Linked DNA regions of Homo sapiens: region 1 is linked to region 2. Evidence: fine-mapped expression QTL. A gene starts in region 2. The other region holds a variant in brackets. All regions are shown on one strand. Distances are from middle to middle. Region 1 holds the start of HPN (hepsin). Region 2 holds the start of UBA2 (ubiquitin like modifier activating enzyme 2).

Region 1 (15,270 bases), 620 kb before region 2:
TTCACTCAGCAAGCGTTAACTGGACACATACTCCATGCCCAGTGAGGGGTGATCCTGGAGACACAGATGGCCGAGACAGTCCTGGGCTTTGCTTTCGGCAAACCACATTATAGGGGATAGGGAGACAGATGGCCATAAAATGTCACCCAGCCAAACACATCATTACAAATTGTGACATGAGGCAGGGCTGGGATATACGAGAAGGCTAGAGGGAGCTCCCGGGAGACTGTTCATGTCTGGGGCTGGTTGGGGGGCAATTTGTGGTGAGAACAGATGTCCCCTGAAACCCCTCAGTCTGTTCCCCACACACCTCAGAGGAACCTGTTAACACCTAAGTCAGGTCACAGACCCTGGGGTATTGATTTCTATTTACCAAACACTTTGTACCTGCCAGGCTCTATTTTAGGCAGTGAACAAATCACCACTGCAATGAACAAATCAGACAAAAACCCCGACCCCTGTGGAACTCAAAGCTCAGTAGGTGAGACAAATCAAGAAAGGGACAAATAAGTAGGATATATTATGTGTCACAAGATAGGAAGGGGCCACAGAGAAAAATAAAATGCCACCGAGGGAGGGGAGTGCCGGCATGGAGGGTGGGGTGAGGTTGCACTTTTCAGTCGCTGCAAGGAGAGCGTCCCTGGGAAGGTGGTGCAAGAACAAAGACCTGCAGGAGGTGAGAAAGTGTCAGGAGGTGTGTGAGATCAGCACGGAGACAGAGGGACTTGCAGATGCAAAGATCCCAAGGCTGGTGTGGGGGACTGGGGGGAGTGCTCCAGGAACAGTGGGAGGCCAGAGCAGAGTGAGCCAGGGAGGGGCAGATCAGGTGGGAGCTAGAAATAGAGCAACATCAGGGCTTTGCTGGCACCTGGTGTGAGGTGCAGCCAGGGGAGGGCCCTGACCTGACTCAGGTGGTCACCAGCTCCCTCTGGCTGCAAGTGGGGAACCAGCATGAGCCACTGTACCTGGCCCCCATCTGATAACATTTTAAAGCCTCTTGAGGCAGCCAGGTTTTAAGACCCTCCAGAATTGCCGGTTAAGTGAGTGAGTCATATCCCCTTTGTGGGATATGATTGGGGGGCAGGGATGGGAGCAGGGAGGCCAGGGAGGAGGCTCTGGGATGTCCAGAGGGGAGGGGAAGGGGGCTGGAGCAGGGTGGGGGCAGTGGACGGGGAGAAGAGTTCAGATTTTGGAGAGGTTCTGTAGGTGCAGCTGACAGGGTTTCCTGCAAGATCTGATTCATGGGTGACTGGAGGAACTGGGAGGGTAACCGAGGGGTTTGGCCTGAGCCTGAAAAGATGGGGCTGACAGAGATGGGGACGGAAGGAGCAGGTTCAGGGAGAGATCAGCTGTGAACCTCTTTGTCCTTTCCTTTCCTTCTCCCTGCCACTTTTTTTTTTCTTTTTTGAGACAGGGTCTCGCTCCACCACCCAGGCTGGAGTGCAGTGGCACGATCATAGCTCATTGCAGCCTCAACCTCCTGGGCTCAAACGATCCTCCCGCCTCAACCTCCCAAGTAGCTAGGACCACAGGGGCATACCACCACACCCTGCTAATTTGTTTATTTTTTTATGTTAGGATAAAGCTGAGTGACAATAGCCAGGTTAGAACCCAGCAAAGCCTGAGCTAAAAACGCCTTTTAAATTTATTTTTTTCTGTAGAGACAGGGTATTGCTATATTGTCCAGGCTGATCTCAAACTCCTGGCCTCAAGCAATCCTCCCACCTTGGCCTCCCAAAGTGCTGGGATGGCAGGTGTGAGCCACCATGTCTTTTTGTCCTTTTCTCAAGAGCCTCCTGCCTGGCCTGGGCTCTGAGAGCACATTCTGGGAAACCGAGTCAAATGAAAACTTGCTTTTGCATCCTCTTAGAAGGAACCTGGTGAGGCCACACACCAGCTGAGGGGTCTTCCCACAGCCCCGCAGGTTGGGACAAGGAGAAGCAAGACTTCCAAGTAGAACTCTCCCCAGCTGAGGACCTACTGTGTTCCTGGGGCTAGGCTACCTCTGCCCCACCATCAACCAAGGCCTCGTCGCACACCCCAGGAGCCACGAAGATCATCCCCAAATTCCAGACGGGGAAGCTGAGGCTCAGAGAGGTGGGGTGGCTTCCCCAACGTCACCAAATGCACGAGAAGCAGGGAGAGAGGATTCGAAATCAGGTCTGAGTGACTTCAAACCCCAAGCTTTTAACATTGCCCTGGACAGCCTCTCAAGAGACTTCCCCTCTGGAGGGTTAAACAACAGCACAGTAATAATAGCACTGGCTACGTTTACTGGGGGGTGTCAGTGGGCTGGCCCCATGCTATGCATCCTATCCAAGTGGCTCTCTGAATCCCACAACCATCCTCGGAGATAGTGACCACTTCGGTTTTTTTTTTTTTTTTTGAGACATAATCTTGCTCTGTTGCTCAGGCTGGAGTGCAGTGGCATGATCTCGGCTCACTGCAACCTCTGCCTCCCAGGTTCAAGCGATCCTCCTGCCTCAGCCTCCCGAGTAGCTGGGATTACAGGCACATGCTACTACACCTGGCTAACTTTTGTGTTCTTAGTAGAAACAGCGTTTCACCATGTTGGCCAGGCTGGTCTCAAACTTCTGGCCTCAGGTGATCCACCTGCCTTGGCCTCCCCAAGTGCTGGGATTACAGGCGTGAGCCACTGTGCCCAGCCAGTAGTGACCACTTCTATGCCCATCTTACAGATGGGAAAACTAAGCCTCAGAGGAATAAACTTGCCCAGAGGCACACGGCTAACCAGCAAAACCGGGACTTGAACCCAGACCAGCATATTCCCTGTTCCTTCTGTGGGTCTCATACAAACCCTTGCCTGTCTCCCTGCCTAATATATTCAGCTACGGCTGGCACTGAAAAGCCACCTGGCTGGCCTGCCTTAATGATGGCCTCCTGCTCTGGGGTTGGGGCAGGGAACGCCTGGCACCTCTGGCTGTGGGGTCCTCATCACCCCATGAATTCCAAGGCCAAGTCTCAGGGTTTGAAACACCAACTGGGGCGGGGAGGGGGGCGGATTCTTATTTTATTTTATTCTATTTTAAGTTTGTTTTGAGATGGAGTCTTGCTCTGTCTCCCAGGCTAGAGTGCAGTGGCACGATCTCAGCTCACTGCAACCTCTGCCTCCTGAGTTCAAGCGATTCTCATGCCTCAGCCTCCCAAATAGCTGGGATTACAGGCACCAGCCACCACGCCCGGCTAATTTTTGTATTTTTAGTAGAGATGGGGTTTTGCCATGTTGGCCAGGCTGGTCTCCTGACCTCAAGTGATCTGCCCATTTGGGCCTCCCAAAGTGCTGGGATTACAGGCGTGAGCCACCGCACCGGCCTGGCCTGCCTTAATTACGGTCTCCTGCTCTGGGGTTGGGGCAGGGAATGCCTGGCACCTCTAGCTGGGGGGTCCTCATCACCCCATGAAAGCCAAGGCTTGGAGTTTGAAACACCAGCTGGGGCAGGAAGAGGGGTGGATTCTTATTTTAAAATGACTGTTAACTGCTCTGGAAATGTGATTTCCAGAAAGTGTGAGGTTTTAGGGGGGAAAATCACTTTATAGATGTGTGTTGGGGGAGATGGGAGTGGGGAGAGAACATCAAATGTCCCCTCTGGCTATTTTTAAAGTCACACTCTCTGCTGCTGTTTCTCACTTTTAAATTCTTTATTCTTGTTCCTATCATTTCAGGCAACACAAAAAGGATGTTCTGGGTCACCTGGTGTGCCTGCCAAGTTGTTGGATATATTTAGAAGTGTGAAAATCCCAGGAAAAAAAAAGCGAGGTGGGGATACAAGCTTGGGGTTGTTTTTGTTTGTTTGTTTGTTTCATCATTTCCCTGAGTTGTTGAAAAACCCAAATACCTCTGCAGGGTGGCGGCGTGGTGCTGGCCAGAGCCGGGTGTGAGTGGTGGCCTCGCTCCTTTCCAGCTGGAGGCCCATGACTCTCTAGTTCATCCCAGTGTTTTGGCTTTGGGTGCACTCATAACTCAAGGATTTCCTGAGAACCTACTATGTGCCAGGCACCGTCTGACCACAAAAGGTCCCTGCCTTCCTGGAGTTCGCCAGGAGTAAATAATTCACAATGAGTGAGGAGGGTTTTACCGGGGTGGCAGGGACACACCATAGGGTGAGAGGCCATAGAGTCTGGAAGTCCAGGAAGATCTTGCTCAAGAAATTTCAAGAAAGAATTTCAGGAGTGAGATACAAAAGCCAATGTCCACTGTGCTGGCTAAGAGGCAAGTACTGCACAGCCTTTTTTTTTTTTTTTTTTTTTGAGACAGACTCTTGCTCTGTCACCCAGGCTGGAGTGCAGTGGCGTGATCTCAGTTCACTGCAACCTGCAACCCGCGCCTCCCAGGTTCAAACAGTTCTCCTGCCTCAGCCTCCTGAGTAGCTGGGATTACAGGCGCCCGCCACCACGCCTGGCCAATTTTTGTGTTTTTAGTACAGATGAGGTTTCACCACGTTGGCCAGGCTGGTCTCGAACTCCTGACCTCAGGTGATCTGCCTGCCTCGGCCTCCCAAAGTGCTGGGATTACAGGGGTGAGCCACCGCACCCCGCCCAAGTACTACACAGATTTTTATCTCCTCTTATTCCCACTGATTCTTCTTACCCCCATCTCACAGATGAGGAAATTGAGTCTTGGAGAGAGTAGGGACTGGTGGGAGGCCCCACAGCTCAGAAGGAACTGTGCAGAACTGAAATCTGCCTCTGGGTGTGAGCTAGAAAGAAGTGGGTGAGTAGAGACTTCTGTGTGAGCAGGTCATTTGAGCAAGGGACTGGGCCCTGAGGGTGCTAGAAGCCAGTGTGAGGTGGGGGTGGAGAGGGGCCTCCACACTAGGAGGCTTGGAGCCTGTGATGGGTTGGGATTTTATCTCAATGCCACGTGTTGTCACGGAGGGGCTTTTGACAGGGGCGTGATCCCTTCGCTCTGTCTCTGATGTGTGGTCAGCCTCGGGCAAGTCAGTTTGCTTCACTGGGACTCAATTTCCCCCAAATGCAAAATGTTGGGATGTAACAGCCCTAACTTCATAGGCCTGCTGGGTAAAGGCTGCCGCCAGGGCCTGGCATATGTCAGTCTTTACTATGGCAATGAATTCAGCTGTTCTTTTTTTTTTTTTTTAACAAGCAATCAAGTGTAGACACTATATACAGTTACTACGCAGGCTGCCTGGGTTCAAATCCCAGCCCTGACACTGACTAGCTCCATGACCTGGGGCAAGTCACTCAGCCTTTCTGTGCCTCAGCATCCCCATAGGAAAATGGGTTGTGGTGGTGCACACCTGTAATCCCTGCACTTTGGGAGGCTGATCTGAGAGGACTGCTTTGAGCTCAGGAGTTCAAGATCAGACTGGGCAATGTAGCAAGATCCCATCTCTACTAAAAATTTAAAAAATGAGGTTGGGTGTGGTGGCTCATGCCTGTAGTCCCAGCACTTTGGGAGGCCGAGACGGGTGGATCACCTGAGGTCAGGAGTTTGAGACCATCCTGGCCAACATGGTGAAACCCCGCCTCTACTAAAAATACAAAAATTAGCTGGGTGTGGTGGCACGTGCCTGTAGTCCTAGCTACTCAGGAGGCTGAGGCAGGAGAATCACTTGAACCTGGGAGATGGAGATTGCAGTGAGCCAAGATCGCGCCACAGCACTCCTGCCTGGGCGACACAGCGAGACTCTGGCTCAAAAAGATAAAAATAACAATAATTTGTTATTGACAAAATAATTTTGTGTAGGCATGGTGGCATTAGCCTATAGTCCCAGCTACTCAGAAGGCTGAGATGGGAGGATTGCTTGAGCCCAGGAGATGTAGGTTACAATGAGCTAAGATCGTGTCACTGCACTCCAGCCTGGGCGACAGAGCAAGACCCCATCTCAAAAAAAAAAAAAAAAAAAAGAAAGAAAGAAAGAAAGAAAAAAAAAAGAAAAGAAAAACAACAGGTTGTTGGGAAGACTTAATGAGTTGATATCATAAGGTCCCAAGGCCTTGGCTGGTGCATACAAATGCTAAGTGCTGGTAATGATGATTAATGTTGATGTTGGCTTTTCTTGTCTGGATTTTCATTTCTGATTTTAGTGTGAACTGAATCCTTTATGGAATTAGATGAGGCTCACAGACATGAAAAATACATCCCACCACCCAACTTCCCCTTTTTTCCTGCTGTCCTGCATCAGGGAATGGCAGCTTGAAGTTGGCATTTGGGAAGATTCATTCATTCATCCCACAGTTAGTTTCTTTATCTATTTATTTGTGTGGCCATTCATTCCACATGCCTGCAGACACACTTACAGTGGATAAGTCTAAGAGCTGTTCCTGGCCCCTCGTTCCCCAGCTGCATGTCCTCTCTGGTCCTCATTTTGCACATCTGTAAAATGGAGCTAATTACCAGGGACAGGCGCAGTGGCTCATGCCTGTAATCCCAGCACTTTGGGAGGCCGAGGCGGGTGGATCACAAGGTCAGGAGATAGAGACCGTCCTGGCCAACATGGTGAAATCTCATCTCTACTAAAAATACAAAAAATTAACTGGGCATGGTGGCACACGCCTGTATTCCCAGGTACTTGGGAGGCTGAAGCAGGAGAATCGCTTGAACCTGGGAGGCAGAGGTTGCGGTGAGCTGAGACTGCACCATTGCACTCTAGCCTGGGTGACAGAGCAAGACTTTTTTCTTTTTTAAAACAAACAAACAAAAAAACTACCTCCTAGGAGAGTTAGAAGGGTCCACTGAATTTATATCATGCCTCCCCAACATGTTTTCACCATGCCACGCAGTAAGAAACACATTTTTACATCCTGATGTAGCCCATAGCTCTGTAGTCTGGGGCAAACTGCTGCATTGCTCAAAGCCTCAGTTTCCCCATCTGTAAAACAGGGAGAATAACAGTCCCACCCTCAGAGTGTGGGGATGCAGTGGGATTACATGTATATGGATGCAAAAAAAAAAAAAAACAAACAAAAATTAGCATAACCTTTACTTACTGAGAGATGTACTGTGATAGTCTGTAATCGAATCTATTTCATACTTAAAAAAAAAACATGGTTTTCCAACTCACTAATTTAATTTTATGAGGCACTCATGAGTAATACACTGGTGTCTGAAAAAGTCTGGGTTAGACATGTGGGGTGCTTAGAATAGTGCCTGGTACATAGCAGGCACTCAATACAAATGCACTATTATGATTAGCATTTCTGCATGCATTTGTGCATTTATTCAACAAATACGCTTGTTGAGCTCCCGCCAGATACACGTGTCCTCCAGGGCTCCCCCAGAGGGTCCCAGCCTGCTCCACTCACCTGGGTACAGCGGCTCCTGGTCACTCCTGAGGAGAACAGCCACTGCAGAGAAGGGAGGGGTGAGGGCAGGCAGGCTGGAGGCTGCAGGGGCCAGGGGAGGTCAGAGGCACAGGAACCGCTCTCACCAATGGCCCAGGATGCCGCCCCGATGGCTGTCAGAAGTAGCAGGGTCCCCGCAGTGAGAGCTGCCACCTTGGGTCTGGAGCAGCATGGCACAGTCCGGCCACCTGCAACAGACACCATGCTGGGGCCACAGCCAGGCCTGTCCTCATTGCGGCAGGGTCTGGGCCCGAGGCCAGCTCTGCCCTGCCCCCAGGGCTAACTTATTATGCCCAAGCATGTCCTCCCCAGGCCCAGTTTCCCGGGGCCAGCAGTTGACAGGGCTGTTCCTCCCCTGCCGTGTGAACAACCAGGTGCCCAGCTCCCCCAGGGTTCCAGCTGGGAGGGGGGCATGGCCGGGCCACCTGCCACGGTCTCCACCTCCGCCCTGCACTTTCCTGGCACTTAGGGAATGTCTCCTCCCCAGTGACACTGTGCTTTTGTATTTCTGTCTTTGCTTTGGGCCATCTCTTCTTGGGACTGTGACCCCCAACCTTTGCCCTCTTGGTAGCTCTCTTCCCTGCCGCTGGCATTTCCTCGCTGCCTCAGTCGTTTCTGCTGTTCTAGATGCTTTGCCCCTAGATACCCCCTAAATCAGACCTCTCTCATGGTACCCAGTTGCAAGATCAAATTTGCCCCTCCACTTGAAAATCTGCCAGCCTCATTTTATTTTATGTATTAATTTTTTTAGCGACGTGGTCTTGCTATGTTGCCCAGGCTGGTCTCAAACTCCTGGGCTGAAGCGATCTTCCTTCCTCAGCCTCCCAAAATGCTGAGATTACAGGAGTGAGCCACTGCGTCTGGCCAGCCTCATTTAAAAATATTGACCCTACCCCTTCCTAGCTGGAACCTAAGGCAGGTGCCATCATATCTTTGAGCCTCAACTTTCTTATCTATTAAATGGGCATCCACTGAGCACCTACTTCTAAAAATAATAATTTAAAGTTATTTTCAAGAAGAAGAAGAATAGCTCAAATTGTATTGATGCCTCCAGGTGCTAAGCACCGTTCTAAATACATCAGCTCATTTAGTCCTTATTTCAATCCCACAACTATGATTCCTGTTTTTGAGATAGCTCAGAGAAGTGGGGTCACGTGCCCACAGTGACAGCCTGGAAGAGGCAGAGCAGCGTCCAGAACCCTGGGCAGGTTTGATGCCAGGTCCCCTGTGTACAGCCACGAAGCCATCCTGGCTCTCACTGTGCGGAAGTGCCTGGCACATAGCAAGTTCTCTATAAATGCTTTATAAATCATCAGAGATGTGTGGGCCTGAGCAACTCCCCTCCCCTCTCTGAGCCTCAGCCTCAGTTTTTTTCTTTTCCTTCCTTCCTTCCTTTTCTTTCTTTCTTTCTTTCTTTCTTTCTTTCTTTCTTTCTTTCTTTCTTTCTTTTTCTCTCTCTCTCTCTTTCTTTTTCTTTTTTTTTTTTTTGAGACAGGGTTTCACTGTGCTGCCCAGGCTGGAGTGCAGCGGCGCGATCATGGCACACTGCAGTCTCAAGCGCTCAGGCTCAGGTAATTCTGAGCCTCCCGAGTAGCTGGGATTATAGGCGCACACCACCACACATGGCTAATTTTTGTATTTTTTGTATTGACGGGGTTTGCCATGTTGACCAGGCTGGTCGTGAACTCCCAGACTCAAGTTATCTGCTTGTCTCAGCCTCCCAAACAAAGTGTTGGAATTGCAGGCGTGAGCCACCGCGCCTGACCCTCAGTTTTTTCATCAGCCTAAAGAAGCTTTATTTGTTTACCATCCTACTGAACATCCGCTGTGTGCCTGGCACCTTTCTAGGTTCCGGGAACATAACCCAAAGAAGACAGATAAGGTTACGACTCTCAGGGGTTCACGTTCTCATGCGTGTAGGTGGGGAGTGGGAGACATTAACAAGGAAACAAGTAAATGAACCCAATAATTTCCAGATTGTGGCAGAGGCTGTGAAGAAAACCGTGCAGGCTGGGGCAGCAGGTGGGCTTCTGCAGGGGATCAGGGATCACAGGGCCTCCCCTAGAGGAGACTTCTGAGCTAAGCTCTGAAAGGTGAGGTGCCAGCCACACACAGACCACAAGGAAGGGCACTGTGGGCAGAGGGAACAGCACAGGCAAAGGCCTTGAGGCAAGAATAAGCAGGCTCTCTTATGTCAGAGGCTGGAGAGGCCATCGAGATGGCCAGATGGCCAGAGCTTGGGGAAGGTAGTGGGAACCAAGGCTGGGGCCAGCTGGGGAGGCCTGGTGGCACAGGAAAAGGGATTTTATTCCCAGGGCAAAGAGGTCCTGGAGATTAAAAGCCAACTCCTAGCCGGGCTCGGTGGCTCACGCCTGTAATCCCAGCACTTTGGGAGGCCGAGGTGGGCAGATCACGAGGTCAGGAGATCGAGACCATCCTGGCTAACACGGTGAAACCCCGTCTCTACTAAGAATACAAAAAATTAGCCGGGCGCAGTGGCAGGCACCTGTAATCCCAGCTACTCGGGAGGCTGAGGCAGGAGAATGGCTTGAACCCGGGAGGCAGAGCTTGCAGTGAGCCGAGATCGCGCCACTGCACTTCAGCTTGGGCGACAGAGCGAGACTCTGTCTCAAAAAATAAATAAATAAATAAATACATAAATAAATAAAAGCCAACCCCTTCACTAGGGATTATAAGAAGGCCAAAGAGTAAAGGCTGCTGAAAGCCTTCAGCTGGGCCTGGCTTGGGTTCAACTGCCCTTGGCAGCCGCAAAGCACCCCAAGGTGGCAGGAGCTCCCAGCTCGCCCATCTGCACCCATGGTGATGTGGCTGGTGAACCCGGCACCAGGCCAGCACCTGGAACAGAGCAGGGAGTGGTCTAGGACCTTCCTGGTGTGGCCATTATCTGGGTGTCTTAAGAATTTGAGAGCTCAGGCTGGGCATGGTGGCTCATGCCTGTAATCCCGGTCCTTTGGGAGGCTGAGGCAGGTGGATCACTTGAGGTCAGGAGCTCAAGACCAGCCTGGCCAACATGGTGAAACCCCGCCTCTACTAAAAATACAAAAATTAGCTGGGTGTGGTGGCGGGCGCCTATAGTCCCAGCTACTCGGGAAGCTGAGGCAGGAGAATCGCTTGAACCCGGGAGGTGGAGGTTGCAGTGAATCAAGATTGCGCCACTGTACTCTAGCCTGGGCAACAGAGCGAGACTCTGTATTAAAAAAAAAAAAAAATTGAAAGCTCAGTGGCTCCCATCAAGGCATGAGGAAACACTCTCTTCCCCAAAAGAGGCCCCAGTGGGCCAGACCAGCCCAACTACTGCCGGCTGACCCCTGCCTGTCCTGCGAGGGGTTCTCAGGCCTGCCCCCCAACTCTGCCCAGGACCACTCTCCAGGTTCCAGCAGGAGGTCTTGGCTCCCGACAGCCACTGGGCTGGTCTTGCTTGCTTTGTTTTCAGCTGTGCCTGCCAGGGCTCTAGGCCATGCAGAATGCAGCCTAGAGGCCTTGGCACATCTGGTGGGACAGGAAGCAATGCCACTATGTATGTGTCTCCTAGGGTGAGAGGAAGAACCTCCTTCCATGCTGTGTGGTTCAGAGGACTTCAGCGCCTCCAGTGGGACAGGAAGCATCTGCATCCTGGGGTTCCCCCAGTATGAGAGGCATCCTCCCTGCATGTCTCTACTGGGACAGGCAGCATCCTCATCTGGCCCACGGTGTGGGACGCATCCTCATCCTCCCTGCGTGTCTCTACTGGGACAGGCAGCATCCTCATCTGGCCCA[G/C]GGTGTGGGACGCATCCTCATCCTCCCTGCGTGTCTCTACTGGGACAGGCGGCACGTCAACATCAATTCTTTGATCCCAGCAGCAGGGCTATTTCCCTTGGTAAGCCAGACCTCCCCCACCCCTACATCTCCCTGAGACTCTCTGCCCCTGCTTCTCCAGGCCCCTCTGGATGCCTTGGGTCTTCTCATAGGTCAGTTCTTCCGCCTCCACCATTTGGCTGCAAAGACCCCCACGCGTAACACCTTTGGCTCTCTGGCTCTGAAAATCCACTCAACTGGTGGCTCCGTGTCTCGGGCCTCATCTTACATGACTGCAGCTTCCTGTATAAATGCTCTCCTCTTTGGACTTCTGGGACACCAGGCGCACCTGATTTTCCTTCCCGCCTCTGAGGCTGCTGTCTTCACCCACCCTCTACCTACTCCGTAAAATCCAGAGTTTGTAGGGCTGGCCGCAGCCTCCCCCTGCTCCTCCTTGCCCCTAAGTCTGTCTCACCCACCTCTGTGGACTCAGTTTCCCCTCTGTCCCCAGCCCTAGACCCTCTTCCAGGTCCCAGGTCAGGGCTCCTGCAGTCCTTTAAATACCTTTTAAATACCTTTCCCTGGGACCTCCTAGTCCCTTTGCCCCTACCAGGTCCCAGAATGTCTCCCCAATGTCTCCCCAAGTATATTCTTCCTCCCGGTCCTGTCTCAGAGGCCCTCACTCCTAGGACCATCCCCATCTGCATAACATTCCCCTCCCCCGACAGCCTGCCAATCCTCCTGAGTGACTCTCCTTCCCCCGTTTCCTTCTTTCTCTCCATCTGCACCTTGCTCCGGCCCCATCCAACCGCTGGGCTCAGTCTCCCTTCTAGCGCACCCTCCACACGGAGGCTTGGGGAACCTACTGAGACACCAAATCCAACCTGTCCCCTCTTTACCTATAGAACCCTCTGTGACTCCCTAGTACCCCCCAGACAGCTTAAGTCCCTCAGCCTGGCATTTCCAGCCCCACTAGGGTATAAGCATGGCTTTCAGAGATTTGGGAGTATGTTTCCCCCAATTCTCAGACAACCATGTGGGTCACTATCAGGTACCAGAGAGAGCTTCCAAAAAGCAACCCAAACAGTAGAACTTGTAAAATACAAGTTAGACAAGAGAAGCAGGGACTAACCACTGGCGCCACCTTGTGGAGAGACCTGGTACTGCAAGGAATTGGCCAGCTCTTCCCCAAAACAGTCCCACCCCTGCCTGGTCCAGCTTGCACACCTCTTCTCCCACCCAGCTCAACTTCCAGCTTCACCTCCAGAAATACCACAATTGGCTACGTGCACACCAGTGCTGTGTCACCTCCCAGCTTCCCAGAGAAGAGCAAGAGCCTTGCTCTTCCCTCTGCCTGGCATCCTTGGAATTGCAACTCCAGTATCACCTCCTCCAATTCCAAGTTTCCAGGCAGCACCAAGAAGCCAGCAGCAATAACAGTGACACCAACAACAGCAGCCGCTGCAGCCACAACGGCTCTCTGAATCACACACGGACGCACCGCCCTACCCTAACCCCGTCCAGTCCTGCACAGCATCCTTACTTAAATCCTTGCAGCTGTTCACGAGGAAGGCGCCATTGCCATCACCCCCAGTTTACAGATGAGAAAAGGAGGCCCAAAGTCCGGCAGCCACCAAACCCGGGTCACCCGGCAAGTAAGTGCAGAATCGGAACCCTTCAGCATCTGTGTCCAGGTTCGACCTCCACACCCCTAGCCCTGACAGCAGGACTCCCCTCCAAGACCAGCCCGGAGCTGCCAGGGAGGCACCAGAGCCCACTTTGTGTCTGTTTCTCTTTGTACCCAGGCCATCTCTGTCCATTCGGGCATTTTCTGCTTTTCTTCCCTGGCTCATTCACCCATGGGCCCAAGCCCTGGGGCTGTCCTTCCGGCAGCTCCAGGAAAGAGATTGTCCCCAAGGAGCTGGATTCTGTCATCCACCTGCTCGGCTAGGGTGCAATGCCTTCTCCTGAGTAACTGGGAGCCTGGGTTCCCTCTGGACTGCAGCTGATTGGTTTGGGGTCTGAATTGCCAGCTGTGCCGAGACCCGAGGAGGCCAGAGATCTGAACTAATCATTTCAGCCAACACGCTCAGTGCTTCCTGCCCATCCTGGCATTTCAGGCCTCGCCCCACGCTGTTGGACATGCACTGTCACCCTCTCCATTTCACAGATGAGAGAATGGAGGCCCAGGGAGAACACGCCGTCTGCCCAGGGCCACACAGCTAGAAAGTGCTACTGCCCAGGACTGAGCCCGGCTATCCTGGTTGCGGAAGAAGAGAGGGAGTCAGCCCCAGCTAGGGGAAGGCAGAAAGAACAGGACGCCCCTCCATGCGCCCCTCCAGCTGGGTCCCATGTGTGAGAGGTAGAAAGGAAGCCAGGCTAGCTGGGGGCTGCCCAGAGACTCCCAAGGGCCAGCAACTCCATGACGCAGTCTCTCTCTCTCATCCTTATGGTGGTTTCTCTGCCGTCTCTCCCCTCTCCATCCATCCAGGCCCAGTCCAAAGTCCTCCCTCTGCTCTTTTGCCCACAGAGCCAGGAGGTGGAGGAATGTCTGGGATCGGTGGGGGTCCTGGGTCTCTGGGACTCCGAGTTTGCCAACCTCTGTCATGACAGCTCTGCTTGATGGCATGCGTCTTATATGCAGAGCCCCAGACCAGTGCCTGGTGTGTGTCATGCACTCAGCAACCTCACAGAGGGAGGACTGGTATCCATGCTTGACCCAGAGGGAGACCAAAGCCCTAAGAATAATGTCACTTGCACCAGATCACACAGCAAAAAAGATGGCAAGAGCAAATTCAAATGCAAGCCTGTGTGTTTCACTCCAAATCTGTGTCCTTAACCATGACAGCTACAGCTTCCCCGCCTCAGCCCCAGCAGAGGACAAGTCCAGAGTTAGCTGAGAAATCACTGGGGGATGAGGGGAAACTGAGGCAGCACGCCAGGAAGGTCACATAGGGTAGAAGGGAGGCTGGTGGTGGCACAGCTGCACAGAAAATGTGGTTAATAGTTAATCAGGTGGAGGAGGACTAACAGGGGTGGGGATGCATCTGGGAGGGGTGCCCAGAGAGAGGGGGCTCCGAAGAGTAGAGGGTAGAGAAAAGAGCACAGAGGGCGGGGCGCCAGGCAGAGCCAAAGCTGGGGCTCAGGGAAGGGGACTCACCCTCCTTCTGCGCCATGTCACTGCCTCTTGTTAATGATTCCCTGGCTGACCTCCTGGGCCAGGGTGGGACCTGTGAGGAGATGGACGGGGAGGCAGGGCCTGGGGGAGCCCAGCCCAGCCCAGTCCTGGCGCCCCCAGTCCCAGGCGTCCATCCAGGCAGGCTGTAGGGACTGGGCCTTGGCCAGAGCACGCCGTGATCACGGACGCAGATTGGGCTGGGTTCAAGGATGGGGTCAGTGTCTGACCAGCAGCGGGGGGACGCCTGGATTTGCAGGGATGGGGACCCCCATGCCTGAGCCTGGTGGAGCAGGGGACTGAGGATCCCGGTTTGAGGGAGGAGACAGCTGAGGACCTGAAATCATAAGTCTTGGGAAAGGAGGAATTTGGGGGCCAGGACTCCCTAGTATGAGGGAGGAGGGGCCTGAGGGCTGGAACTCCTGGGTCTGGGGAGGAAAGGACTGGGGTCCAACGGCTGAGTCTGAAGGAAGAGCAGGACAGAACACCTAGGTGCTTGGGGGGACGTCATAGTGCCCCCTCTTCAGGTCCCCAGGAACCCCTCTATTAGGAGGTGGGCATTAGGCTGGGTGGGGGGATGAGGGAACCCCTGTCCTCAGGGCTGGAACTGTGAGTCTGGGGGCCCTTGTCCTTACCCTGGGGTCCAGCAGGTGGGGGCGGAGCCTCGAGGTAGTGCCGGGGTCGGGTCAGTCTCCAGGCCTGGGCAGGAGCATGGTGGCCCCGCAGCAGCGGGCGGCCTGGAGGCAGAGGCGGTGGCGTGGGGCCTGCTAGGCCAGGCTGCCTCACCTGAGGAGGAGGGGGCTGGGCGAGGGGCGGGTGAAGGGGCGGGGAGGGGCCGGACCATTCGATTGGCAGCACTGGAGGCCACCTGGCTGATGGGGCCGGGCTTGTGGGGGCTGGACCAGGCGGGCCCAGCTACGGGGCTTGCCTTGGACCTCCAGGGGGACCCAGGTGTGCCTGTCTGCGGGGATGTG
Region 2 (16,179 bases):
TTCTTAAAAGAACTGAAAGAAAAAATATCTGAATAGCAAATGAAGCCGTGTTGAGGTTTTAAAAACTGAGATATGTGCCAGGCATGGCGGCTCACACCTATAATCCCAGCACTTTGGGAGGCCGAGGCAGGTGGATCACCTGAGGTCAGGAGTTGAAGACCAGCCTGACCAACATAGAGAAACCCCGTCTCTACTAAAAATACAAAATTAGCCAGGCGTGGTGGCGCACGCCTGTAATCCCAGCTACTCGGGAGACTGAGGCAGGAGAATCGCTTGAACCAGGGAGACGGAGGTTGCGGCGAGCTGAGATCGCGCCACTGCACTGCAGCCTGGGCAACAAGAGCGAAATTCTGTCTCAAAAAAATAAACAAATAAATAAATAAACCAAAACAAAACTGAGGTATGAGCACACAGGTATTTTGTTCTATTATTCTCTAGTTGTATTTAAATGTTTGAAGTACTTCACAAATACACCCCTAAAAAGTTTTCAAAGTTCCCTTCCACATTATAAGCCCAGACTCTTAGACAACAGAATTTTTTGGTTTTTTTTTTTTTGAGACAGAGTTTCGCTCGTTGCCCAGGCTGGAGTGCAATGGCGTGATCTCAGCTCACCGCAACCTCCGCTTCCCCGGTTCAAGGGATTCTCCTGCCTCAGCCTCCCAAGTAGCTGGGATTACAGGTGCACACCACCACGCCCGCTGATTTTTGTATTTTTAGTAGAGACAGGGTTTCACCATGTTGGACAGGCTGGTCTCAAAATCCTGACCTCAGGTGATCCGCTCGCTTCGGGTTCCCAAAAAGTGCTGGGATTACAGGCATGAGCCATCACGCCTGGCTTTTTTTTTTTGAGATGGAGTCTCACTCTGTTGCCCAGGCTGGAGTGTGGTGCCATCTTGGCTCACTGTAACCTCCACCTCCGAGGTTCAAGCAATTCTCATGCTTCAGTCTCCCAACTAGCTGGGATTACAGGTACACGCCTCCACACCCAGCTAATTTTTGTATTTTTTGTAGAGACGTGGTTTCACTACATTGGAGAGGCTGGTCTCGAACTCCTGACCTCAAGTCATCTGCCTACCTCAGCCTCCCAAAGTGCTGGGATTACAGGCATGAGCCACTGCACGCAGCCGACACAAAGAAATTTTTGATGCCTGGTATATCATGCTTACCACTCTAAGGATTTTAATACAAAAGTCAAATGAAACAAAATGGCAGAGCTGAAAGATTTCCTTGCCCATAGTCTTTTGAGCACGTTTATAGCATTTTAAGTTTGTTTTTTGAGACAGAGGCTTGATCTGTAGCCCAGGCTGGAGGGCAGTGGTGCAATCTCAGCTTACTGCAACCTCTGCCTCTCAGGTTCAAGTGATTCGCCTGGCTCAGCCTCCCAAGTAGCTGGGATTACAGGCGCCGGCCACCATGTCCAGCTAATTTTTGTATTTTTAGTAGAGATGGGGTTTCACCATGCTTGCCAGGCTGGTCTCAAACTCCTGACCTCAGGTGATCCGCCCACCTCGGCCTCCCGAAGTGCTGGGATTACAGGTATGAGCCACTGCACCTGGCCCCGCATTTTAAGTTTTATATAAGCATAAAAGTCCTTACATTTTGGATGTTCACCTGTTCATTTTATATAAATACAAAGTTTATTTCCTCCTGCTCCAAGGTCTCAAATAAATATTTGGGAAGTTAAAAAAATAAAACTTTTCTTTACCTTTTTGATAGTAGTTACTTGTCCAAGATACCCAGCTGTTCCACTTTCAATAAGAGGAACATCAGCTGCCAGGCACATTCTATTAACATGGTTTCGGGCAGCTGGAAGTAAAACAAACAGTATGAGTTTTTGGGAAAAAAAAAATTAGTTATCTTTAATTAGGATGACACAGACTCAAAACTATCTTACTGGCTTCATTTTTTGTACAATTTTCTTATAGCTATGGCCAGAATAATACAACTGTTAATTACAGACATTTAAGAGACATTCACTTAGCAAAATATCAAATAGAATTTATATCACAAATTTACTCCAGGAGAAGTACCCACAGAAACACATAATCTTAAAAATCCAACGTGCCATATTTCTCTTCTATTGCTGTACCTTACACAAAACACTGTTTCAAGGTGTTCCTAAACTCACCACTATTCTAATATAACTAGCAGATAATACATGATAGAAATGAAGGCAGAATGTGGAATATCAACTTGGAACTATTAAAGTAGTTTAAGGCTAGGGAAAAAAGATGAGTCAGGTTAAGAGAGTAATTTCACGCCAGGAGCACTGGCTCATGCCCATAATCTCAGCATTCTGGGAGGCTGAGGTGGGAGGACTGCTTGAAGCCAGGAGTTCGAGGCCAGCCTGGGCAACAAAGCAAGACTTCATCCCTACAAAAATAAACATAAAAAAATTAGCCGGGTATGGTGGTACCTGTCTGCAGAGTAGCTACTGCAGAGGTTGAGGTAAGAGTATCACCTGAGCCCATTTGAAGGCTTCAGTGAGTTATGATCACACCAGTGCACTCTAGTCTGGGCAACAGTGAGACCCCCCAAGCCTTAAAAAATAAACGTAATTTTGACTTTTCCTTGTGTTTTTTATTTAGATATTTCTGGCCCAACTTGTTGTAAACTCACTTAGTAGATATACTTTTACATGTGGAAGTAATTACAGACAAAGAATATCACTCAAGCATCCCCCACCCCACCCTCCAGTCACACTTTTTCTTTTTTTGAGACAGGGTCGCACTCTGTCACCAAGGCTGGAGTGTAGTGGTGTGATCTAGGCTCACTGCAACCTCTGCCTCCTGGCTTCAAGCGATTCTCCCACCTCAGCCTCCGGAGAAGCTGGGACTACAGGCACATGCCACCACACCGGCTAATTTTTGTGTTTTTTGGTAGAGACGGTTTCACCATGTTGACTAGGTTGGTCTCGAACTCCTGACCTCAAGTGATCCTCCTGCCTTGGTCTCTCAAAGTGCTGGGATTACAGGCGTGAGCCACTGTGCTGAGCCACAGTCACACTTTTTGAGAGCTTTTCACTTCACTTCTATTTATACCTTTTGGTAGAAATGCAGAGAATATGATAGCTAAATTCCCGCCTGGAATAAGTCATTTCTATATAAAACTGCAATCAATGGGCATGCTTTAAACTCGATCATTTCTCTTAAGTCTTTTAAGTTCTAAATCACAATAGTCTAATAAATATTAAATTTGTAAACAAATTTGATATGGGAGAGAGGAAATACTGAGAAATTAAAAGTATTAAAATAACCTCACCTCTGTTATCTAAAGCATTCATAACCAGTATAAACTGTCGGAAAAATTCCACATTATAGTCAGGGCTACAAAACAAAATAAAAAAAGGTCACCAAAATAACTAGCCTTCCACATGATCTTTGCAGTATAATAAACAGTTCTGAAAAAAACATAGTAACTGTAAACAAAACTGATATCAGGATTATATGTCATATAGATAGTAAGGTTTGACTCTTTCCAAACATAAGCAGATTTTAAAGAAATTATTTCCTTCAAATTCCTATCCTTTTTGGCCAGCTAGGGCACAAGAGAAAGATCTCAAACTGGCAGAAAGATGGCATGACTTCACTAGTCCCACTAGGCCTTCTTTGGGCAGCAAGTGCCTGGGAACGCATAAAGAACACATTCCCAGGATCTGCCTGGCCTCTGACTTCACCTCACATGATCAGGATCAGGCAGGGTTCAGGCCCCTAGGGTCTCTGTTTTTAGCAGCACTGGGAAAGCAACACAGGGTAAGGAGGTTATAGGGCTACAGGCAGGTTCACAGAGTAAAAAACTAAAAAACAAGCCGGAGATACAGGCCGGGTGCAGTGGCTCACGCCTGTAATCCCTGCACTTTGGGAGGCCAAGGCGGGTGGATCACCTGAGGTCGGGAGTTTGAGACCAGCCTGGCCAACATGATGAAACCCCGCCTACTAAAATACAAAAATTAGCTGAGTGTGGTGGCGTGCGCCTGTAATCCCAACTACTCAGGAGGCTGAGACAGGAGAATCGCTTGAACCCAGGAGGCGGAGGTTGCAGTGAGCCAAGATCATGCCACTGTACTCCAGCCTGGGCAATAAGCGCAAAACCCTATCTCACACACAAAAAAAACACAATCCGGAGATACAAATGCCCTGAGAAAGTGTTAAGTACCTCAATTCCAGTACCTCAAACAAGGACTATTTTTAACACTATTTACTTGCAAGCTAAACCACCATAGATAAAGGACAATTTCGGCCCACAGTTCCTTTGCTCCAACTCCTCCAAAATTATATATTTACTCTATCTTTACTGAGATAAATATATTTATGTACTGTCAATACTACTGCCCTACCACAATTCCAAGTGTTATATTACAGAAGTCAGAGTCATACTACAGATTATTTTGGGAGGGAAACTTTTAAACAAAAAAAGGCAAACACTTTAGAAAAGTCTGAATCATCATAAATAAGGATATTTCATAGTTTAAAATATCTTCTTACTTAAGGCAAGCATATAAGGTCTTTATAAATTTCCAAGTAACTTATTTATTAAAAGTATTAAACTATCTCACCATTCTAAATCATTCAAACCATGTATTTATGAACTGGTAAAAAGAATGCCACTCTGTAAGCAGAAACCACCACTGTTTAATAATTCTAGAAAAATCATTTTTTTTAAAAAAGCTGAATGACTTTGAGCTTATATATTTGGCTTACAAAACCCTTATACAACTTTGCAATGTAATCACTATAGCATACTTCATGATGCTGTCATGGTAGGCAACGATATTAGCTTTCGGGTAAAACTGCAGTACACTTTCCTTGGCAACCTGGAAAAATAAACAACACTGAATTACTACAATATTTCTGTTCCTATCTGAAATCTGCTTCTGGAAGCCACAATGCTGTTATCTACTTACATAGTACCTTATTTATATTAAACACCAAAGAAGTCCAAAAATGTGAGAAAATTGCATTAGGGTTAAGCTACACTTATAAAATTATACTTTTATACTTATAAAATAACCGGAGAGCCCCCCCTGACCCACGTACCACCAAACACACTTCTACATGAATGGCAAGCTTCAGCAAAAATACAACATGAAGTAACCAAGTGTCATTCATTCATTCACTTAACAAGTATTTACTGAGCATCTTGCATGTACCAGGAACTATACAACGTACATGTCAAGCAAGAGAGACATTAATCAAATAACAATCCAGATTAAGTTCAACTACAGACTCTGATAAATGCCATGAGAATGACAGGAAAAGGCCAGGCATGGTGGCTCATGCCTGTAATCCCAGCACTTGGGAGGCCAGTGTAGGAGGATCCCTTGAGGCCAGGAGTTCTAGGCTGCAGTAAGCCATGACCGCATCACTCCACTCCAGCCTGGGGCGACAGAGTGAGACCCTATCTCTAAAAAAAAAAAAAAAAAAAAAAAAGAAAAGAAAATGATAGGAAAAGTAAAGTAAAGGTTGTTATGAGAGAAAAACCAACCTGACTTAGTCTAAAAGGTTTAGGAAAGTACTCCTGGAGGAGGAAGCCAAAATATGAAAGAAAAAGAGAAACAAGTGGGGGTTTGCCAAACAGGTTGGGAGACAGGCAAAGGGAAAAGATGTTTTAAGACTCTGAATCACCAAGGAACACTAAAAAAACTAAACAAAGATCGGGGGAACTGTCTTGTTTCAACTAGGACAGCAGCATAACGCTCCTCTAGCCCCCAAACATAGCAGTAGTCAACCTCTAGGGGGTGTAGGAACACAAGGTGCATCCTAAGCAAAGCATCAGAAACTTAAATATAAAGAGGCCATGAAAGTTACACCATCACGGGATTATTTCCTTTTTAGAACAAAAAAGGAGGGCTTAATCTTTAGTCCTTTACTTGATATATCTTTATCCTTCACAATCTCTCAGCTGAAATGAGAGCTTCACCCATTTTTTCCCTCCTATATGACAGGCAGGATTAATCTGGTATCACAAATAGAAGCTCCATCAAGTTATAGAAATGGTATGAGAAATATAGTTACCTGTGCCTTTGATCTTCCAACATGTTTCTTTTGAAACAAAAACTGTCTGTTGAGGTTGCTTACATCAATAGTATCCAGATCAATCTACAAATGCATAAACCCCAGATAAATGACAAACGTTTACGTATGTTTGAGCTGTATCACTACTCTCAGCACCTGTAATCCAGAACTTTTGATATCTGCTACATTAGTGGAGAAAGCGTTTTTCGAATCGCCATACCAAAATTGTTAAACTGATAAAGAATAATTTAATGCATGTAAGAATCTAGATTTAATGTCAGAGATAAACTTCTCAAAAATACTTTGAAAGAATGGTATATTTTGTTTGTTTAATCATCCTGGAAAATATTTCAGGAAACTCCCTGGATGCCATAAAAATATGTGAATTCATTAAAACTATATGTGCTGTCGAGGTAAACACTAACTGAAAATATATTAACATATTTCTCTACACCGGGAGTGGTGGCTCATACCTGTAATCCCAACACTTTGGGAGGACAAAGTGAGAGAATCGCTTGAGCCCAGACCTTCAAGACCAGCCTAAGCAAAATAGTGAGACCCTGGTGGCTACAAGAAATAGAAAAAATAAAATTAGGTGGCACATGCCTGTAGTCACAGCTACTCGGGAGGCTGAGGTGGAGGATCACTGGAGCCTGGGAGGCGGAGGTTGCAGTGAGCCGAGATCGGGCCACTGCACTCTAGCCAGGGTGACAGGGCCAGACCCTGTCTCAAAAAATACTAAAGTATTTCTCTTTCAATCGAATTACTCTTTCAAGTACAAAATATTAAATTTAACTATGCCCTGTTCTTTTTCTTTGTTTTTTGAGACAGGGTCTCCCTCTGTTGCCCAGGCTGGAGTGCAGTGGTGCAAACACAGCTCACTGCAGCCTCGACCTCCCAGGCTCAAGCGATCCTCCTGACACAGCCTCCCGGGTAGCTGGGACCACAGGCGCACACCACCACGCCCCGCTAATTTTCTTTTTTTGTAGAGACGGGGTTTCTCTATGTTGCCCAGGTTCTGTTCTTTTTCTTAAATGATACATGGCAAACGTTTATTGAATTTTTGCTGCCTCCCTTAATTCAAGCCTTCATCCATACACAATTTCATTTACTATTAACCTGAGAACTGTGAAAGGAAACTTTTACACATGGTTAAAAAAGTATCATGTTTTAAGTTTTATCTAATTTTTGCTTAAATATATAATACATAAAGGAAAGAAACAATGACTCAGTCGGCCACCCGTACTTTTTTGTTCATTCCATGTTTCCACTAGCCCTTAAGACACTTTAAACTCACACCGAAGGGCCAGTAACATCTCCAATCTCTAAAAAGTTTGCATTAGTAGAAATAACGATTCAAAATAGCACTGGCTTGTCAACGTACACCAATGCAAAAGGCACAGTCCTAACGTCTTTAATGAAACAAGCGAGTGTACCGTCTACTGTGAGAGCAATGACAGTCACGCAGCCTGCGGGAGCCCTGCCACTCGCTCCGTGACCCAGGGTAAGTTACTCAACCCCATTGCGTCTCCCTTTCCTCATCTGTTAAAAATAAAGCAGGGTGGAAATAGCGTTTGCACTCCTCGGGTGGTATGAAGATGGTGCGCGTTCCGTGTGTAAACCCGCTCGTGACCAGCGCTCGGGACGCGTTGGTCGCTATCATTGCCATCCTCCGCCCCGCGTCGTTACTTCGGAGTTACGACAGGGACCTCAAAATTAAAGTCACAACATCCGCGAGGGACTCAATCCTCTCCCGCATCTCCTAACAGCCGGGAATTTGTTTTGAAGGGAGGATAAGAGGCGGCTTCACGCCCACGAAGCGCCACACATTGGCGCTGCCGGGGAGGCGGGGGCCCGCGGCCTCCTCGGCGTCCGGAGCCGGCCCAGCGAGCGGAGGCCCGCCCCGTGCCCAAAGAACAGTCTCCTCCCGCGGGGGGGGCACAACCCGAGCCTCTCAGCCTGCCCCCGCTCCGCAACTCCGGTCCCGGGCTCCGGGCCCTGAGCCTCAGAGCCCCTGGAGCCCCGGAACCCCCGAATCCCAGCCCCCGCACCACAGCCCGCCATTCACGCGCGCGCGCCCGGCCCTCACCAGGTCGATGTGGGAGAAACCGGTGAGCACGAGATTCTTGAGGAGCTCGCAGCCGATGCCGCCCGCCCCCACCACCAGCACCCGGCCCCCGGCCACCGCCTCAGCCAGCTCCCGGGGCAGCCCCCGCGACAGTGCCATGGCGGGACAACCACGAGCCGCGGCGGAGGCGGAGGCGGGAGAACCGAGCCGCGGCCGGAAGCGGGTGGGGGAAGGGCGGCCTGGTTTCCGCTCCTGCGCACTACAGCCTCCGGCAGACACAGGCAGGGCACATCGCGCCGGGGTGTGCTGCAGCCCGCGGGGACCGGCAGGCTCTTGCAAAGGGCTGGCGACCTCCAGCTGAGACCGGCGGTGTTATTCCCACACCAGCATAGGCCCGCCATCAGACCTAAAAAGTCTAAGGGTCGCCTTCTAGCCTGGGGTTTCAACTCCCAGCCAAGACTTCCTTACAGGTTAGAAAACTGATGTCCCTATACGTAAAGAGCTCTTACAAATTAACAAGTGTCACCCCCAAAAAAATATAGGCAAAGGATGTGAACAGGAAACTCACAAAAAATTGGACAATATGATCAATAAGCGTATTAAAATGTAAACCATAAAAGAATCGCTTGAACCCTGGAGGTGGAGGTTGCAGTGAACCAAGATCGCACCACTTCACTCCAGGCTGGGTAACAGAGCAAGACTCCGTCTCAAAAAAGAAAAAAATGTAAACCATGCAAAATGGTAAGATTTTCACCTGCCGGGCGCGGTGGCTTACGCCTGTAATCCCAGCACTTTGGGAGGCCGAGGCGGGTGGATCACGAGGTCAGGAGTTCTGAAACCAGCCTGACTAACATGGTGAAACCCCCATCTCTACTAAAAATACAAAAATTAGCCGGGCGTGGTGGCGTGCGCCTGTAATCCCAGCTACTCGGGAGGCTGAGGCAGGAGAATCGTTTGAACCCAGGAGGCAGAGGTTGCAGTGAGCCGAGATCGCGCCACTGCACTCCAGCCTGGGCAACAGACTCCGTCTCAAAAAAACAAACAAACAAACAAACAAAAAAAAACACCGAAACAGCTGGGGGTGGTGGCACAAGCCTGTAGCCCCAGCTACTCAGGAGGCTGAGGCAGGAGAATTGCTTGAACCCAGGAGGCGGAGGTTGCACCACTGCACTCCAGCCTGAGCAATACAGCGAGACTCTGTCTCAAAAAAAAAAAAAAGTTTTTCACCTACTAAACTGGTAGAAAGAAAAAATAAGTAACACTTATCAAGGGATTGGGAAACAAGCACTCCAACACACTCCAGGTAAAGATTCCAAAGCAAAGCTTCTCTAGAGGGCGTGGTGGCTTGCACCTGTAGTCCCAGCTACTCAGGAGGCTGAGGCAGGAGGATCACTTAAGCCTGAGAGGTCGAGGCTGCAGTGAGCTATGCCCTTACCACTGCACTCCAGCCTGAGAGACAGAGCAAGACCCTGTCTCGAAAAAAAAGAAAAAAAAACCCTAAAATTGTGCACAACTTTTGACTCATTCATTCCAATTCTAGGAAACTGTCCTGTAGCAGTTATCATTGATTTAAAATATATATAAATTTAGTTACAGGGATGGCCATCATGGGAATAAAAATTGGAAAATACAAGTGGCTAAAAATTGTATAAAGCTTTTGATGTATATTTAAAAAATAGAGCAATTATAAATTATGTTGTGGGAAAAATATTAATGGGAAAATGCTCCAAATATAATGTTAAATGCAAGAAACAAGCCCACCCCATGATCACCTAGGCCTCATTATCCTCATCTACGTAGGCAGAGCATGTCTGAACATGGCTGGGAGTGTTTTTATACTGCTGTTATGGGGCTGAAGGGAAGGGGTTGATCATGTTAAAAATAAAGAAAGGGGAAGACTGGAAGGCAGCTGGATAAAGGGACAGTCTCCAGAACGGAGTAAAGACCCCTTCCTGGGATACTGCAGGAGCAGAAGATGGGAGTGGGTGAGGGCGGGGACCTGGGCTGATGAACATGGGCAGGTCTAAACAGCCAGGGTCACAGAGCAAAAACCTCCAGCAGCTAGAGCAGGTTCAGTGGCTTGATCAGGTGCCAGAAACAGCATAGGAAGCACTGGAGTGCACGTGTCAGAGGTGTACACAAGAGGCTGACCACTGCTCTTGGCTCTTTCGCTGCTCTCCTCCCCCCTAGAATGCCCACCAGAACGGCTGTGCAGACAACACCAGCCCTCTGGACTAGAGAGGAGCTACCTTCCTAGCTGCCACTGTGACAGCTGGCCCTGGACCCTGGAAGGGCAGACCAACCCACAGTCAGGAGGTCCTGGCCCGGCCCCGGCCCCGGCACCAGCACCCAAAGGCAAAAAGGCAACTCAGAAAAACAGAGGTTAATAACTTGTGAGTTAAAATAAGGTACATACAAACATATTTGGATGTAAACATTTGTTTTAATTTATATTAATAAAAGGAAATGCTCTACTTAAACAATAATTCATCTGGGTCTTCTTGTATAATACAAAATTCTTCCATGGGAGTCTGATGATTTGGGGGCCAGCAACTCTTCTCACATGTGTAAACTAGAATTGTTCCAAATTCCACAGAAAGACCTGAAAAATACCACATATTCAGGCTTCCAGCAAAAAGAGTTATGAGACTGATGTTACTAAAAGGAATGATTTTACCTTATAAGCTGAAAAAGTAATTAGGTAAAGCAAAAACAGTGCTTACTGCTTTCAGCTATAACAGAATCACAGTCTATCCTATAATAAGTGAATATTGATAACAAAAAAGCAAAATTAATTTAAAGTGGCAGGAAAATATACTTTAAAAATAAACAAAAATTTCAGCAAGTGTTCATTATAACTGTCTAGCTATCTGATGTTGAAAATCTATATTAATCTACATGGTTCATGTGATATACATAGCTTTTGGCTAGGTGCGGTGGCTCACAACTGTGATCCCTGCACTTTGGGAGGCCGACGGGGAAGGACAGCTTGAGCCCAGCCTAGGCAACATAGTGAGACACCTGTCTCTACAAAAAACAAAACAAACAAACAAACAAACAAAATATATATATATCTCATATAGCCTGGGCAACACAGTGAGACTTTACTAAAAAAAAAAAAATTCACTGGGTGTAACGGTGCACACCTGTAGTCCCAGCTACTCAGAGGAGACTAAGGCAGAAGGATCACTTGAGCCCAGGAGATAAAGGCTGCAATAAGCTATGATTGCACCACCGTACTCTGGCCCGGGTGATAGAGCGAGACCCTGTCTTAAAAAAAAAAAAAAAAAGAAGAGAGAAATATATATCATAGGACACACTACTGCCGAGAAAGGATAAGGATTCAGGCAAAAAATATAAAATAAACCCTAAGAGTTTACAGAAAATTATCAATGAATAAAGCCATTAAAAAAAGATACCAAGAAAACATAAGCAATAAGAACTCCTGATATTAGAACAGAAAAGCAGGAGTCAAGAGGATGACGTAGGCAATGATTTGCAGCAGCAAAGGAGAAATACATTGTTTAAAAATGTATGCATTGGCTGGGCACAGCACATTGGCTCATGCTTGTAATCCCAGCACATTGGGAGGCTGTGGTATATGGATCACCTGAGGTCAGGAGTTCAAGACCAGCCTGGCCAACATGGTGAAACCCCGTCTCTACTAACAATACAAAAAATTAGCTGGGCGTGGTGGTAGGCACCTGTAATCCCAGCTACTTGGGAGGCTGAGGCAGGAGAATTGCTTGAACCTGGGAGGCACAGGTTGCAGTGAGAAGAGATTGTGCCACTGCACTCCAGCCTGGGCAACAGAGTGAGACTCTGTCTCAAAAAAAAAAAAAAAAATGAAAAAATGGCAGAGTTTAACTGGTATATGACATTCCTCTAGGAGCATCTGACTGGTAAGGGAAAAGCGCCTCAAGTGAGCAAGTCTACAACTCCAGTAAACACACTGCGCATGCGGCCTCTCCCAAGTGCTGGAGGGCCACTATGCATGTGGACAGCCCACCCCAAGGGAAGAAACAAGAGAAGTAACCCAAGACCCAGGAAGTATAAAACCCCAAGTCAAAGGTCAAATGGACACTTGAATCTCTCAGGTTGCCTGCTTGGCCCTCTTCCAACTATATTTACTTCCTTTCGTTCTTGCTCTAAAACTTTTTAGTAAGTTTTCACTCCTGCTCTAAAATTTGCTTCGGTCTCTCCTCTGTCTTATGTGCCTCGGTCAAATTCTTTCTTCGGAGGAGGCAAGAACTGAGGTTGCTACAGACCCCTACAGATTCACCGCTGCTAACAGTATTGTGGCAAAAATGTTAGTCACAAAGGGGGAAAAAATCAGACCACCCTCATACCTCTACAAAGCTACATTCCATGCAAAAGACATTTCTATATGAGTGAAAAATCTCAGAGACTAGAATGCCCATAAGCCCTTCCAGAAAAATATATTTCCCAGTGAGACTGAACCACCAAGAAATGACAGGAGGCACCAGGGCAAAGGGCTGGCAGGGCTTTCACTGTCAGAAGACAACACAGGGGTCTATACAAGGTTCTGAAAAGAGAAAGTGGGATTTAAAAATTTTATACATGGGTTGCCCCTCAAATATGAAGCCACATTACCATGCACAATCTGAAGCAAGATACCTCTGAGCCCTCCTTAAAGCTATTACTTGAGAAAATCCAGCTACTGCAAAAAGAATCAAAATAAAACAGGAATAAAAAAGCTCACTCTAAGAGTGGTGATAAACACTGAATCCATTTACACATAGAACTAAGGCTATCCAAATAGCTGTGATAATTATGATACTGGCCAGGCGCGGTGGCTCATGCCTGTAAATCCCAGCACTTTGGGAGGTCGAGGTGGACGGATCACTTGAGGTCAGGAGTTCAAGACCAGCCAACATGGCGAAACCCCGTCTCTATTAAAAATACAACATTAGCAGGGCGTGGTGGTGGGCGCCTGTAATCCCAGCTACTCAAGAGGCTGAGGCAGGAGAATCGCTTGAACCTGGGAGGCAGAGGTTGCAATGAGCCGAGATAGTGCCACTGTACTCCAGGCTGGGCGACAGAGTGAGGCTCCATCTCAAAAAAAAAAAAAAAAAAAAAGATACTGGGTCCAGGCACGGTGGCTCATGCCTATAATCCAAGCACTTTGGGATGCCGAGGCAGGTCGGGAGCTTGAGGTCAGGAGTTTGAGACCAGCCTGGCCAACAACAGTGAAACCTGTTTCTACCAAAAATATAAAAAATTAGCTGGGTGTGGTGGTGGGCACCTGTAATCCCAGCTACTCAGGAGGCTGAGGCAGGAGAATCACTTGAACCTGGGAGGCAGAGGTTGCAGTGAGCCGAGATAGCACCATTGCACTCCAACCTGGGTGAAACTCCGTCTCAAAAAACAAAAAAGATACTGAAATATTTCAAGGTAGGAATAGGGTATAAATTTCCTTATCTACTATGGTAAGGAGCCAGATGCATACTATCTAAAACTGAAACACAGAAAGAATGTTATTTTCTGTTAATAGCAGAAGCACCTTTCAGAAACTTGGGCCTCTTAGGTAAAGAACCTATTACCAAAAGTCCAGGCCAGGCGTGGCAGCTCACGCCTGTAATCCCAGCACTTTGGGAGGCTGAGGTGGGCGGATCACAAGGTCAGGAGATCAACACCATCCTGGCTAACACAGTGAAACCCCGTCTCTACTAAAAATACAAAAAAAAATTAGCTGGGCTTGGTTGCGGGCGCCTGTAGTCCCAGCTCCTTGGGAGGCTGAGGCAGGAGAATGGCATGAACCCGGGAGGCGGAGCTTGCAGTGAGCTGAGATTATGCCACTGCACTCCAGCCTGGGCGACAGAGCAAGACTCCGTCTCAAGAAAAAAGAAGGAAAAAAAAAAAAATCCAGTAACTGCTTCACTTATACTTAACATTCCTTCTGTTAATTTGTACAAAAATTTGTTCTAAGACTTTTAATTACCATATTAGTGAATTTTCCTATTTTAGGAAAATTATTTTCGTCTAGCCATCCATACATTCATCTGACTTGCTATTTGTCTTTATGTCAAAAATGATTGTTGGAATAATGGTTATTAACATTGATAATAGTTTTAATTTCTGGCCAGGCATGGTTCATGCTTGTAATCACTTTGGGAGGCCAAGGCGGGAGGATCGCTTGAGTCTAGGAGTTCGAGACCAGCCTGGGCAACATGACGCAACCTTGTCTCTACAAAAAATACAAAAATTCCATCCTGGCCAACACAGTGAAACCCTATCACTACTAAAAATACAAAAACTAGCCGGGCGTGGTGGCGGGCACCTGTAATCCCAGCTACTAGGGAGGCTGAGGGAGGGGAATTGCTAGACCCCGGGAGCTGGAGGTTGCAGTGAGCCAAGAACGTGCCACTGCACTCCAGCCTGGGCGACAGAGAGAGACTCCATCTCAATAAATAAATCAATCAATAAATATTAAAAAAAAAAAAAAAAGACTGGCTGGATTATAAATTTCTTTTTTTTTTTTTGAGACAGAGTCTCCTCACTCTGTCGCCAGGCTGGAGTAGAGTGGTGCGATCTTGGCTCACTGCAACCTCTACCTCCTGGGTTCAAGCGATTCCCTGCCTCAACCTCCCAAGGAGCTGGGACTACAGGCACGTGCCACCACGCCCAGCTAATTTTTTATATTATAGTAGAGACAGGGTTTCACCACATTGGCCAGGATGGCCTCGATCTCCTGACCTTGTGATCCACCCGCCTTGGCCTCCCAAAGTGCTGGGATTACAGGCATGAGCCACCACACCTGGCCTAAATTTCTTAAAATAATTTTTTAATTCCCAAATTTTCTGTAATTTGCTTATGATATTTTATAAGTAAACAAAAGGTTTTTCATTTATTTAAAAATAATGCCAGAAATCCACAAACTCAAATTAATAAAGGGCTTCTCACCTAAATTAGCACTCTTGAGCATGCTGACCAGTGCTGGCATAAGCTGAAACTCAAATATCCTTTGGCCTCCACACTGGCTGCAGGCTGGGAGCTCGGTGACTTCTGATGTAGGGCAGGTCAAAAAGAGTGGCTCTCCACTCCAGGAATACCTAGGACAAGGAAACAAAGAACCCCGAATCAGAGCCACACAAGTCGCATTCTAGCATCTAAGGCCATGCTTTGCAACCTTTCTTTGTTTCTTGCAGAAATCTCCCAGAGGCCCAAAAACCTAGCACCATGGCTGTAAAGCATAGCAAGATATCTGGAAATCTTGTCAGTGTTCGATTCAAAGTCTCAAAGGCACTAAAGTCAATGTTCAACTGAATCTAGGTAAAGCTGCAACAAAGTCCAGACTCAGCTCCACTGCAGATTAAATGGAATCAGCCCTCCACATCACTGGCCTTACAGAGGAAAGGGCATGCCTTAGAGAAGAAGTCCCCAACCCCCAGGCCATGGACCCCCAGGCCATGGACCAGTACTGGTTGGTAGCCTATTAGGAATAGGGCCATGCAGCAGGAGGTGAGCAACAGCCAAGCGAGCATTACCACCTGATCTCCACCTCCCGTCGTATCAGCAGCATTAGATTCTCATAGGAGCGCAAATCCTATTGTGAACTGCACATGCAAGGGATCTAGGTTGTGTGCTCCTTCTGAGAATCTAAAGCCTTATGATCTGAGGTGAACAGTTTCATCCCAAAACCATGCCCCACATCCCCCACCTCAGTCTGTGAAAAAATTGCCTTCCATGAACCAGTCCCTGATGCCAAAAAGGTTGGGGACCTCTGCCTTAGAGGGAGGAAACATTCACTTCAGTTTTTGGGTTTTTTTTTTTTTTTTTTAGATAAAGCCTTTTTCTGTTGCCCAGGCTGGAGTGCAGTGGCACAATCACAGCTCACTGCAGCCTTGACCCCCTGGGCTCAAGCAATCCTCTTACCTCAGCCTCCTGAGTAGCTGGGAACACAGAGGCGCATCACCATACCCAGCTAGTTTTTAAAAAAAAAATTTGTAGAGACAGGGTCTTGCTATAATGCCCAGACTGGTCTCAAACTCCTGGCCTCAAGTGATCCTCCCACCTCAGCCTCCCAAAGTGCTGTGATTACAGGTGTGAGCCACCACATCCAGCTCACTTCAATAT

Evidence for each region. PIP is the estimated chance that this variant, and not a neighbour inherited with it, causes the effect.
Region 1: its variant is fine-mapped to the expression of UBA2 in whole blood (INTERVAL, PIP 0.98).

What each region holds. Positions count from the first base shown.
Region 1 is chr19:35,041,534-35,056,803 of GRCh38, reverse strand. HPN (hepsin) reads right to left here and starts at 15,083. Exons shown (of 13, transcript NM_001384133.1): 1 at 14,932-15,083; 2 at 14,282-14,351; 3 at 7,413-7,514; 4 at 7,288-7,329. The coding sequence starts at 14,297. The variant G/C (reference allele first, on the strand shown) is at 11,104.
Region 2 is chr19:34,420,495-34,436,673 of GRCh38, reverse strand. It overlaps UBA2 (ubiquitin like modifier activating enzyme 2), which reads right to left and starts at 8,293. Exons shown (of 17, transcript NM_005499.3): 1 at 8,104-8,293; 2 at 6,015-6,098; 3 at 4,743-4,813; 4 at 3,262-3,326; 5 at 1,706-1,806. The coding sequence starts at 8,241. PDCD2L (programmed cell death 2 like) reads right to left here. Exons shown (of 7, transcript NM_032346.2): 6 at 15,007-15,155; 7 at 10,506-10,684. The coding sequence ends at 10,554. LOC124904695 (a long non-coding RNA gene) reads left to right here and starts at 8,310. Exons shown (of 2, transcript XR_007067232.1): 1 at 8,310-8,552; 2 at 10,273-10,568. It also overlaps the pseudogene RN7SL154P. RefSeq lists silencers at 7,796-7,955, 8,026-8,135, 8,166-8,405.